Homo sapiens: one gene and its partner. The protein of the gene in region 2 interacts with the protein of the main gene of each other region in a pairwise test. Each region holds a gene or a part of one and is shown on either strand. Other genes may lie near its edges.

Evidence for each region. Proteins that work in one complex are often made in the same cells at the same time.
Region 1: the proteins of ZNF233 (region 2) and CACNA1A interact in a two-hybrid assay, tested with the Homo sapiens proteins (one study listed by BioGRID and IntAct).

Annotation. Positions count from the first base shown.
Region 1 is NC_000019.10:13,204,978-13,209,479, reverse strand, and holds the end of CACNA1A (voltage-dependent P/Q-type calcium channel subunit alpha-1A), read left to right. Parts: coding exon 1-168; intron 169-470; coding exon 471-724; intron 725-1,426; coding exon 1,427-2,167; 3' UTR 2,168-3,038; downstream 3,039-4,502.
Region 2 is NC_000019.10:44,268,743-44,276,602, reverse strand, and holds the end of ZNF233 (zinc finger protein 233), read right to left. Parts: intron 3,705-7,860; coding exon 1,930-3,704; 3' UTR 1,286-1,929; downstream 1-1,285. UniProt on the Homo sapiens protein: May be involved in transcriptional regulation.

The DNA.
Region 1 (4,502 bases), about 31 Mb from region 2:
CCATGAAGCGTTCAGCCTCCGTGCTGGGCCCCAAGGCCCGACGCCTGGACGATTACTCGCTGGAGCGGGTCCCGCCCGAGGAGAACCAGCGGCACCACCAGCGGCGCCGCGACCGCAGCCACCGCGCCTCTGAGCGCTCCCTGGGCCGCTACACCGATGTGGACACAGGTGGGCAGCCCTGTGGTGCTCAGGGACAAGCAGAACAGAGGAGAGGAGAGGGGAGGAGAAGGCAGGGCGGAGGAGACACTAAGGAAGAAGAAAGGGAGAGGCCTCCATGGAGAGGGGACAGAGGGGGCCAGGCAGCAGCTGCAGGAACCTGGGTACTACCCCCTCCCCCCAACCCACTGACCTGCCTCGGTTCAGGGGATCTCTAGGGCCCCCACACCTTCCAGGTGGCCTCCTGTGTGTGCATCTGCCCCACCTCTCCCTCACGACCACCTGTGTGTCTGTCTGACCCTCACCCGGCCCAGGCTTGGGGACAGACCTGAGCATGACCACCCAATCCGGGGACCTGCCGTCGAAGGAGCGGGACCAGGAGCGGGGCCGGCCCAAGGATCGGAAGCATCGACAGCACCACCACCACCACCACCACCACCACCATCCCCCGCCCCCCGACAAGGACCGCTATGCCCAGGAACGGCCGGACCACGGCCGGGCACGGGCTCGGGACCAGCGCTGGTCCCGCTCGCCCAGCGAGGGCCGAGAGCACATGGCGCACCGGCAGGTGGGTGCGGCTGCAAGTGACCCCAGGCTGGGCTCGGCCGGGAGGCGGGGAGGAGAGAAGGGGATACCCCATCCAACAGCCACTCTAGGCAAAGGTCCCCGGATCCCGGCTGTGACCACCTCCCATCCTGCCCCCAAGCCACCGGGGTGCCCGGCGGCCGGAGCGGACACGGATCCCCACCACACCAGCTGCCTATGCTGTCCCCCCAGCCCCCTTGCCCACCCGCCGCCCCCTCCCCGCCGCCCGCAGCTGCTTGCTCCTCGGTTGTGGATCATATTTGAGTTCTGGGCCGTGCCGCCCGACCTTTCACTTTCCTTTAACCCGGCTTCTGTTTTTGTTTCAATTATGATTTCTGTCCTCTGGACGCCTGTGAGTAATTTTTGAAACTTCTGCTATTTTTAACCCCGAAACTTACAAAACTCCATTTCTCATTTCTCTTTTCACTTTGTTGTGTTGGTTTTCGACTCCTCCCCTCCCTGTCTCACTCCCCCTCCTCCCCTCCCTCCTCCCTGTGGCTGTTGCTTTTTTCCATTCAATGTCCTGTGTCCCCCCTCTCCTCCTCCTCCTCCTCCTCCCCCTCCCCCTCCTCCCTCTCCTCCCGGCCCCTCTCCCTTCGCTCCCCTCTCTTCCTCCCAATCCCGTGTCTCCTTTGATTTTGTTGTATCTTTTTTTTTGATTTCCTTTGTTTCAATTTTCGTGTAGGGCAGTAGTTCCGTAAGTGGAAGCCCAGCCCCCTCAACATCTGGTACCAGCACTCCGCGGCGGGGCCGCCGCCAGCTCCCCCAGACCCCCTCCACCCCCCGGCCACACGTGTCCTATTCCCCTGTGATCCGTAAGGCCGGCGGCTCGGGGCCCCCGCAGCAGCAGCAGCAGCAGCAGCAGCAGCAGCAGCAGCAGGCGGTGGCCAGGCCGGGCCGGGCGGCCACCAGCGGCCCTCGGAGGTACCCAGGCCCCACGGCCGAGCCTCTGGCCGGAGATCGGCCGCCCACGGGGGGCCACAGCAGCGGCCGCTCGCCCAGGATGGAGAGGCGGGTCCCAGGCCCGGCCCGGAGCGAGTCCCCCAGGGCCTGTCGACACGGCGGGGCCCGGTGGCCGGCATCTGGCCCGCACGTGTCCGAGGGGCCCCCGGGTCCCCGGCACCATGGCTACTACCGGGGCTCCGACTACGACGAGGCCGATGGCCCGGGCAGCGGGGGCGGCGAGGAGGCCATGGCCGGGGCCTACGACGCGCCACCCCCCGTACGACACGCGTCCTCGGGCGCCACCGGGCGCTCGCCCAGGACTCCCCGGGCCTCGGGCCCGGCCTGCGCCTCGCCTTCTCGGCACGGCCGGCGACTCCCCAACGGCTACTACCCGGCGCACGGACTGGCCAGGCCCCGCGGGCCGGGCTCCAGGAAGGGCCTGCACGAACCCTACAGCGAGAGTGACGATGATTGGTGCTAAGCCCGGGCGAGGTGGCGCCCGCCCGGCCCCCCACGCACCCCACGCACACACCCCACCCGAGGAGCCGCGCAGAGGCCGCGGGGGCCCAGCACAGAGGGCCCGGGAGAGGGCCAGCCGGGAGACCCCAGACTCTGGAGAGGCCAGGGCTGGGCCACAAGGGTGTCCCGCAGAGACCCTCGGCCAAAAGAGACCCTCCTGGGCAGCCACGGCGCCCCCCAACCAGCCCCGATCCCCCCACCCACGACAGGGGCTCTCGGGTGGGAGGCAGGGAGCAGACAAACCACACAGCCAAGGGATTTGAATTAACTCAGCCATTTTTGGAGAACTTTGGGGAACATGAAAAAAAAAAAAAAAAAAAAAAAAAAAAACATTTTTAAAAGAAAAAACGGGGAGAAAAAAATAGCTTCTATTGATGAGTTTTATCATCTCAATTGAATCTTTCCTTTCCCTGATGAAGACAGCTGGTGGCCGAGTGCGGCAAAGAAGCCAGAAGGAACCAGAATCCCAGTGCCCTACACCCACCACCAGACACACTCACACCCACACACGTTCTCAGACACACACAAGAGTGCTTGCCGGTTATACCAAACCCTACTATTACTGCCTGCAGAAATCAATTTAAAAAAATAATAATAACAATAAACAATTTTAAAAAGGACAAAAAAATTAATGATTGAGAAAAGAGGCATTTTTTTCTGACATTTGGTCCTGCTTGAAACAACAAAAGAAGAAGAAAAACCCACCATCACCACCGATTCCTTTGCTTCTTTTTTCCTTTTTTCCTACCTTGTTTGAAAACCGTGGGCTTGGGACTGTGAATTATTGCATGACATTCAAAAAGAAAAAAAAAATAAAAAAAAGTTGAATCAAAGGGCTTTTGGATAGGAGTGGTCTTTGTCCCTTGGCTAGGTGCTGCCTGGGTGGGTCTCTCTTGGGGAATCATACAAAGAGGCACTTCTTTGTTAGCTCCTAGAAGCACTGTTTGAAAGCGACAAGGAGGCCGGGCATCATGCACGCCTGTAATCCCAGCACTTTGGGAGGCTAAGGCAGATGGATCACTTGAGGTCAGGAGTTCGAGACCAGCCCGACCAACATGGCAAAACCTCATCTCTACTAAAAATACAAAAAAAATTAGCCATGCGTGGTTGCACAAACTGTAATCCCAGCTACTCCGGAGGCTGAGGCATGAGAATCACCTGAGCCTGAGAGGCGGAGGTTAGCAGTGAGCCAAGATCCCACCACTGCACTCCAGCCTGAGTGACGGAATGAGACTCTTGTCTCAAAATAAAAAAAAAAAAGGCAGGGCGCGGTGGCTCACGCCTATAATCCCAGCACTTTGGGAGGCCGAGGTGGGTGGATCACATGAGGTCAGGAGTTCACAACCAGCCTGGCCAACATAGTGAAACGCCGTCTTTACTACAAATACAAAAATTAGCCACGCGTGGTGGTGGGTGCCTGTAATCCCAGCTACTCGGGAAGCTGAGGCAGGAGAATTGCTTGAACCCAGGAGGCGGAGGTTGCAGTGAACCAAGATCGTGCCACTGCACTCCAACCTGGGTGACAGAGCAAGACTCCATCTTAGATAATTAATAATAATAATTTGGTCTCGTGGACACCAACCCCCGCCCCCACGAAGTGTTTCAGCCATCCCCAGAGTCCAATACCCCTTTGAGAGCTTCTGTTCTCACAACAGTACCTGACCCATAGCAAGCTACTATTGACTATCACCATTACTACTGTAGCATTAAGGCAAACATTTTGAACAGGTCTTGTTCCAGACAACAGGCCCTGCTTGAGCTTACCTTGGGTAAGAAATCTGCAGACTCCAGATAGCAAGACAGGTGTAAGTCCTTCTAAAATAATGGTAAGCCAAATGTGGTGGCACACACCTGTAGTCCCAGCTGTTCAGGAGGCTGAGGCAGGAGGATCACTTGAGCCCACGAGGTCAAGACCAGCTATGATCACACCTGTGAATAACCATTGCATTCCAGCCTGGGTGACGTAGAAAGATCCCATCTCTAAAAAAATTAAAAGTAAAAATAAATAAATAAAATAATGGCATCTAGGAAAAGATCAGTCCAACGAGAAGTCAAAGTTTTGAGGTCGAGTGCGGTGTCTGACTCTTGTAATCTCAACACTTTGGGAGAATCACTTGAGGCCAGTAGTTCAAGACCAGCCTGGGCAACATAGCAAGACGCTGTCTCTAAAAAAAAAAGTTTGTTTTTTTTAAGGCTGGGTACAGAGGCTCACGCCTGTAATCCCAGCACTTTGGGAGGCCAAGGTGAGCAGATCACCAAGTCAGGAGTTTGAGACCAGCCTGGCCAACATAGTGAAA
Region 2 (7,860 bases):
TTCCGAAAATAACTGCTTTAGAAGTGCACAGAAAAGGGAGTGTGTGATATGAGAATGTTAACTGAGCATCTATTCTTTAAGTAAATTTCCTCAGTAGGTTGGAATGAACAAATGTGGGAATCAACTCAACCAGAAGGGCAGAGGTGAGGGAATCACAGAAGAATTGACCCAGAGCCCTGTTTCAACGAGACCTGGTCCTGTCCTACCTGTATTCTTTTTGTTTTTTGTTTTGTCTTGTTTGAGATGGAGTCTCATACCGGCCCCCTGGGCTGGAGGGCAATGGCGCCATCTTGGCTCATGGCAACCTCCGCCTCCCGGGTTCAAGCGATTCTCCTGCTTCAGACTCTTGAGTAGCTGGGATTACAGGCACCACTACCACACCCGACTAATTTTTGTATTTTTAGTAGAGGCTGGGTTTCACCACATTGGCCAGGCTGGTCTCAAACTCCTGACCTGTGATCTGCCCGCCTCGGCCTCCCAAAGTGCTGGGATTACAGGCATAAGCTACCATGCCCAGCCTCTTCTTTTTAAATATGCATACCAATAAATTTTGTTCCAGCTAGTTGGAGTGTGATTTTCCATTTCTCACAATTGAAAACATCTTGATTTAAACAACCATGTGCTCCAGCAGCCCACCCTAGTAATCTGGTGGTGATGAAGCAAAGCATTATTGGCCCTGTATTTCTTTTTTTGTTTTTATCTTTTTTATTTATTTTTTCTTTTTCATTTATTGGCCCTGTATTTCTGATGGTAGCATGAAATGAGGTATCATGGAACTTAAGTATTCATTGTCCTGGAAGGTAAGGTCCAGGACAAAAAAAAAAAAACAACAGTGGGAAACTTTCTCCCACCTCCACTAAATATACACCTGAGTAAACCCTTCATCCAATTACTATGATTTGATCATTACACACTGCATAACGTGTAATGATGTCTGAGAAGTATGGGGTGTTGTCCAAAATGCTGTGTCCTTAACAGCTTAGTTTAACATCTAAAATGCATGCCATATGATATTCCCCTTTTTTGCAAAACCTTTCTCATGAAGCTTTATGGAACTAAAAACCAGTTGGGATTTTTTTCTTCATTCAGTCTGTTTCTATCACACTAGCTCCCAAAAAGAAAGATAGCAAAAGCCCCCGCCAAAGAAACATAGCACAGCTGTACACTGTATGGAAAAAGTCTTAAATAATCAGATAGAAACTTTGGCCTATTATACTGCTTGGAAAATGAAGCTGAACTGAGGACAGAAGCCAATTGCAAAAACATTACTCAGATTGTAGACTGCTTGGTTTTATGTGTTTTAATTAAATGTCATTTCCTTGAATTCATTTTAAGGCTTCTTGCAAGAATCCTTTTCCCAGTACAATTATAATGACGAATTGGGGCTGAGCTCACTAAAATATTCAAATATATGTCCTATATATGATAGATTTTTCCTATCAAGTTAAACAATTCCAGGGAAGCCACTATTTCTTAGGTACTTGTTCAAGGTCACGATCATGCAGCAGTAAACAATGTTCCTGCATGGAGCTTAGATTCTAGTGGACACAGATTTTGTCATGTCCCTCATTATACTTTTGCTAAATTCTGACCTTACTTATCATTTTGAAGGCTTCACTCCTGCATATTGCTTATTGGATGTGAAGGTTCTGATTGAAACATATTGTATCATTCTTTATAGGGTTTCTCTGTTGTGTGTTCTCTTGACAACTGTGACATTTTGGGCTCTGCTTGAAACTGGTCATATTCATACAAAAATAGGTTTTCTTCAATGGAATTCAGATAACTATAAAAACTCAGCTCATGAATTCTTAAAACATGACATTTTATAAATATTCTGTGCTGTGTGGATTTTCTGAGGAAAATGGGAAGTCTAAGTCTTGAAGAGCACCCCTATCACACTCATCATGATTAATAGATTCATCACCATCATGGACTCTCTGATGAATCTGAAGACAACGAACTCTTACTAAAGCCCTTACCACACACAAAACATTTGTATGGTTTCTCTCCAGTATGGACTCTCTGATGGGCTTGAAGATGTGAAGTCTGACTGAAGCTCTTACCACACATGCCACATTTATAGGGTTTCTCTCCCGTGTGGATCCTCTGATGAACATGAAGATATGAGTTCCAGATGAAGCCTTTCCTACATTCTTCACATTTGTATGGTTTCTCTCCTGTGTGGACTCTCTGATGGGCTTGAAGATGTGAACTCCAACTGAAGCCTTTCCCACACACATCACATTTGTAGGGATTCTCTCCAGTATGGACTTGCTGATGGTCTTGGAGATGCGAACTCTGACTAAAGCCCTTCCCACATGTCTCACATTTGTATGGCTTCTCTCCTTTGTGAACTCTCTGATGGGCCTGAAGATGAGAGATCTGACTGAAGTCCTTCCCACATGTGTCACATTTGTAGGGTTTCTCTCCTGTATGGACTCTCTGATGGGCCTGAAGGTGGGAATTACGGCTGAAGTTCTTATCACACACATCACATTTGTAGGGTTTCTCTCCAGTGTGGATTCTCTGATGGGCTTGAAGATTTGAGGCCTTACTGAAGCCCTTATCACATACCTCACATTTATATGGTTTCTCTCCAGTGTGAACTCTCTGGTGAAGACCAGAATTCCTATTAAATATCCTGTCACTTACTTCCCATTTGTATGTCTTGTCTCTAGAGTGACCTCTCTGATGGGCTTGAAGTTGTGATGTCTGACTGAAGCCTTTATCATATACATCACATTTACAGGCTCTCTCTCCAGCACTGTCTACACAGTGAATGTCAAAATCTAAGCTATGATGGAAGCCCTTCCCACACCTGCCACATGTACACAACTTCTCTCCTGGGTGAGTAAGCTCATGAGAGGGAAGACAGGAGTTCTGGTTGGAGCTCCGGGCATATACCTGACATCTGTAGAGGTTCTCTCCTGTGCTGACTCTCTGATGAGGTTGCAGATGTGAGCCCTGACTGAAGCCCTCACCACTGTCACCATTCCTATAGCATTTCTCTCCTATGTGGAAACACTGATGCCTGGGAAGCCCTGAGCTGTAACCTATGCCCTTCCCGTACTCAACATTTACATGAGGCTTGTCTCTTAAGTGTAGTTGCTGGTGAAGTTCAAGATTAGAGCCAACACTTAAGCCTTTTCCATTTTCATCAGAGGTTTGCTCTCCTGATTGGATTATGCTATGCTGGGATGATTCCTTCACACAGTCTTTTCCACAATTATTGTGGCTAAAAGCTTTCTCTCTTTTGTGTACTCCATGATCATCATGTTGATGAGCAATTCTTTGCCTAACACAATGATCACATTTACAGAGCTTATTTTTTACATCAATTTGCTGACACCTACTCTGATAATTCTGTGGTTCTCTCAGATACATTTTCCTCCAGAAATCCCAGGTGGTCCTCAATGGAAGCTCTTGATTTTTTATGCTATTTGAACTCTCCCCTTGTAGCTTTATTACATAGTTCTCATCTTCAGAGACCTGACTAGATTCTCCTGTCCACACCTGACAGGGGGAATCACCTTGTTTTAGCAACTTGGACCTCTTGCCTTGAAGATTTATTATTAGGTCTTGATTACTGGTTAATTTACTTGTAAATTGTTCCCATATTTGCCAGCATATAAGGTCTTCATATGAAAGGAATCTTAATCTTACTTCTTGAAGGGTATCTATCTCATTTTGATTCTTGTGTCCTAGAATGATAAAGAGAACTCAGAAATGAAAATGAAGACAACTGAACATTTGTTCAGAAATAAAAAAACATTTCACAGGTTGACCACATTGGGAAACCTTAATAAACCAGTGGAGAGTTCAGCTTGACTTTATCATTGTTTTTTTTTCTCTTTTTTTGTTTTTTGAGACGGAGTCTCGCTCTGTCACCCAGGCTGGAGTGCAGTGGTGTGCTCTTGGCTCACTGCAAGCTCCACCTCCCGGGTTCATTCCATTCTCCTGCCTCGGCCTCCCGAGTAGCTGGGACTACAGGCGCCTGCCACCATGCCCAGCTCATTTTTTTGTATTTTTAGTACAGACGGGGTTTCACCATGTTAGCCAGGATGGTCTCGATCTCCTGACCTCGTGAACCGCCCGCCTCGGCCTCCCAAAGTGCTGGGATTACAGGTGTGAGCCACCGCACCCAGACTATCATTGGTTTTTTTCATGCCTATGGCAACAAAAAAGGCTGGCTTCTATATACAAAATGTTAATGAGACTCATTTAGAGCTATACCAAGACTTTTTTTTTTTTTTTTTTTTGAGACTGCAGGTTGTACAATGTAACCATGATTCTGAGGCTCACATATAGCCAGGATTTTGTAGATTTTATACATCTGCCATGGAAAAGAGGAGAGGATTTTTTTTTTTTTTTTGAGATGGAGTCTCACTCTCTTGCCCAGGCTGGAGTGTGGTGGCACGATCTTGGCTTACTGAAACCTCCACCTCTGGGGTTCAAGTGATTCTCCTGCCTCAGCCTCTGGAGGAGCTGGGACTACAAGTGCATGCCACCACACCTCATTAATTTTTTTTGTATTTTTAGTAGAGACAGGGTTTCACCATGTTGGCCAGGCTGGTCTTGAACTCCTGACCTCAAGTCATCTGCCTGCCTTGGCCTCCCAAAGTGCTGGGATTACAGGTGTGAGCCACCATGCCTGGCCAATACCAAGACTTATGTATGTGGTCAAATACACAGGCTACAGAGCAACAAAAAGATGCCCTAGAAAGACGTTGTAGAGGAGAAACTTTACCTCCTTGTCCATAAGAATAATCACTTAAAAATCCCTCCTCTTTGGCTGGGTGCGGTGGCTCTCACCTGTAATCCTAGCACTTTGGAAGGCCGAGGCAGGTGGATCACGAGGTCAGGAGATCGAGACCATCCTGGCTAACATGGTGAAACCCCGTCTCTACTAAAAATACAGAAAAATTAGCCAGGCATGGGGGCAGGCGCCTGTAGTCCCGGCTACTCGGGAGGCCAAGGCAGGAGAATGGTGTGAACCCAGGAGGCAGAGCTTGCAGTGAGCGGAGATCGTGCCACTGCACTCAAGCCTGGGCTACAGAGTGAGACTCCGTCTCAAAAAAAAAAAAAAATCCTCTCCTCTTTTCCGTGGCAGATGTATAAAATCTACAAAATCCTGGCTATATGTGAGCCTCAGAATCATGGTTACATTGTACAACCTGCATCTGTATATGATAAAGCCCAAAAATGGTTACAAAAGCCTGAATCTCTCCTTCAGCATTCACAAGTGGATTATTTAGTGATGCCAAGAATTCTCAAAGAAAGAAAGAGGGGACATCCTTGGCAAAAGTGAAGAGAATATAGAAAAATATCTTCTCTGTCTTGAGAATGAACCCATAAGATAGTACCATTATTTCCTTAATTTAGTCCTTAAACATACATTTGATGAGCTAGATTTGAGAGAATTCTCCTTCTTTTCAATGAGGTTCTAAGTATATAATATTCAATTAGTGAACATGATAAATGAAAAAGAATTAGAAAACTTATTCCCATAGCTGACACACCCTATAGGAGTAAAGGCATTGATAATTGTTGCCACTTGGTTTGACTGAATTTTCTGATAAACCTAAATGGCTAATACAAGATGGTCCCCAGTGATCACTCCCCATTGGAATCCATTCCCTTTTGAAGCCCCCTCCCACACTGTATCAAGTTTGGTCTGTGAAACCAATAGAATATGGCAGAAGTGATGATCTGTCACTTCTGATGCTAGGTCATAAAAACACTGTGGCTTCTATCTTCCACTCTCCTGAATCACTGGGTCTGGGAGAAACTAGCTGCCATGTTTTGAGGACACTTCAGCAGCCGTAGGGAATGGTTCACTTAGCAAGGAAGCGAGGCCTCCTGCCACAGCCATGTGAACGAGCCCACCTTGGAAGCAGGTCCTTCAGTCCCAGTCCAGCCTTCCGGGGACGGCAGCTCCGTCACTCTTTAACAGCTTTTTGAGATCCGGAGTGAGAACCCTCACTTAGGGTTAAGCTAAGCTGCTCCCATATACCTAACCCATAGAAACTATAAACCAATGTTCATTGTTTTAAGGTGCTAAGGTTTTTGTTTTGTTTTGAGACGAAGTTCCGCTCTTGTTCCCCAGGCTGGAGTGCAATGGTATGATATCAGCTCATTGCAACCTCTGCCTCCGGGGTTCAAGTGATTCTCCTGCCTCAGCCTCCCCAGTAGTTGGGATTACAGTTGCCTGCCACCACACCTGGCTAATTTTTTTTTTTTTTTTTTTTTTTTTAGTATAGATGGGGTTTCACCATGTTGGCCAGGCTGGTCTCAAACTCCTGACCTCAGGTGATCTGCCTGCCTCAGCCTCCCAAAGTGCTGGGATTACAGGCGTGAGCCACCACAACTGGCCAAGGTGCTAAGTTTCACAGTAATTTGTTATAAAATAATTGATAACTAACACAGGTGTCATAAAAATTATAAGTAGGCTGAACATAACATCAGAAGAGTAACTATGTTCTGAAATAGTCCTTTAGTGACACCTCTTTATTCTCTGCCTGTGAACTCTCTCAATGAGAAGTGAAGACAGTGAGATCCACTTAGCACCATACTCTGTGAGATTTTGTTTCATTGATCCTTGAGGGAGAAGATGCCCTTTAATTTGTACTTCTGTCCAGTGAAAATAGACCTCAGGAATATTTTGTATAGGTGGAGCTGGGTACGTAGGTGGATAAGCAGAATGTGAAACCCTAAAAAATTCTGATGTTTGCCAAAAAATAAAGAGAGGTGAGGGTAGAATACGCTGTCAGATTTGTTCAGTTTTCCAAGGGCTGTGAGTTACATAGTTATATCCTTTTGTCAAAACTCATCAAATTGCACACTTAAGGTGTGCACATGTAAATTTTACCTCAATAAAAAAGAGCTGTAAAACAAGCCATTTTACTTCCTGAAAATTTAGGGAGCTATACATTTACAATTTGTACAGTTTTCTGTATATATTTCAATAAAAAATTGGCCAAAAATTAAAAAAAAAGTAAAGATTTGTGGCCGGGAGCAGTGGCTCATGCCTGTAATCCCAGCACTTTGGGAGGCCAACGTGGGCAGATCACAAGGTCAAGAGATAGAGACCATCCTGGCCAACATGGTGAAACCCCATCTCTACTAAAAATACAAAAATTAGCTGGGTGTGGTGGCATGCGCCTATAGTCCCTGCTACTCGGGAGGCTGAGGCAGGAGAATCGCTTGAACCTGAGAGGCAGAGGTTGCAGCCAGCCAAGATTGCGCCACTGCACTCTAGCCTGGCAACAGAGCGAGACTCCATCTCAAAAAAAGAAAAAAAAAACAAAAACAGTCAAGATTTGCTAAGGAGGCAAAGAAGAAGTTGGGAAGAAGCTACCTGTTAAGAAAAAAAAAAAGGACAATGGCAATAACTGGGATCATAATTCCCAAGTTTTAGGTTTATACACAAAAATGAGGCAGTCAAAAACAAAAAAAGAAAATTTTTAAAAATGAGGCAGTCAGTCAAAGAAGTCAGCATCCAACATTCCTGATTGCAATGCAGTCAACGTTCATGGAGCATGGAGATACAAGAAAATAAAAGATAAGAAGATTGGAAAGATTTTACTACTCCAGCTACTTACAAAATCCAGGGCCTGTCTCTCTCAGATAAGCAGAGAGATTCTCCTGGGCTTTTGGTTTGCTTTTTTTGTTTGTTTAATTTAGTTTTTGCGTTTTGGTGCTTCTATCAAGTAGGAATGACTTTAATTAGTGTATTTTAGGTATTTATGATGTATATTCAAATTAAAGATAAATGAAGGAAGAAGTGAAGAAAAGGGGGAATGAAATAAGGAAGAGAAAGAATAGAAGGAGAGGGGTGAAAGCAGAACAGGGAGGTTG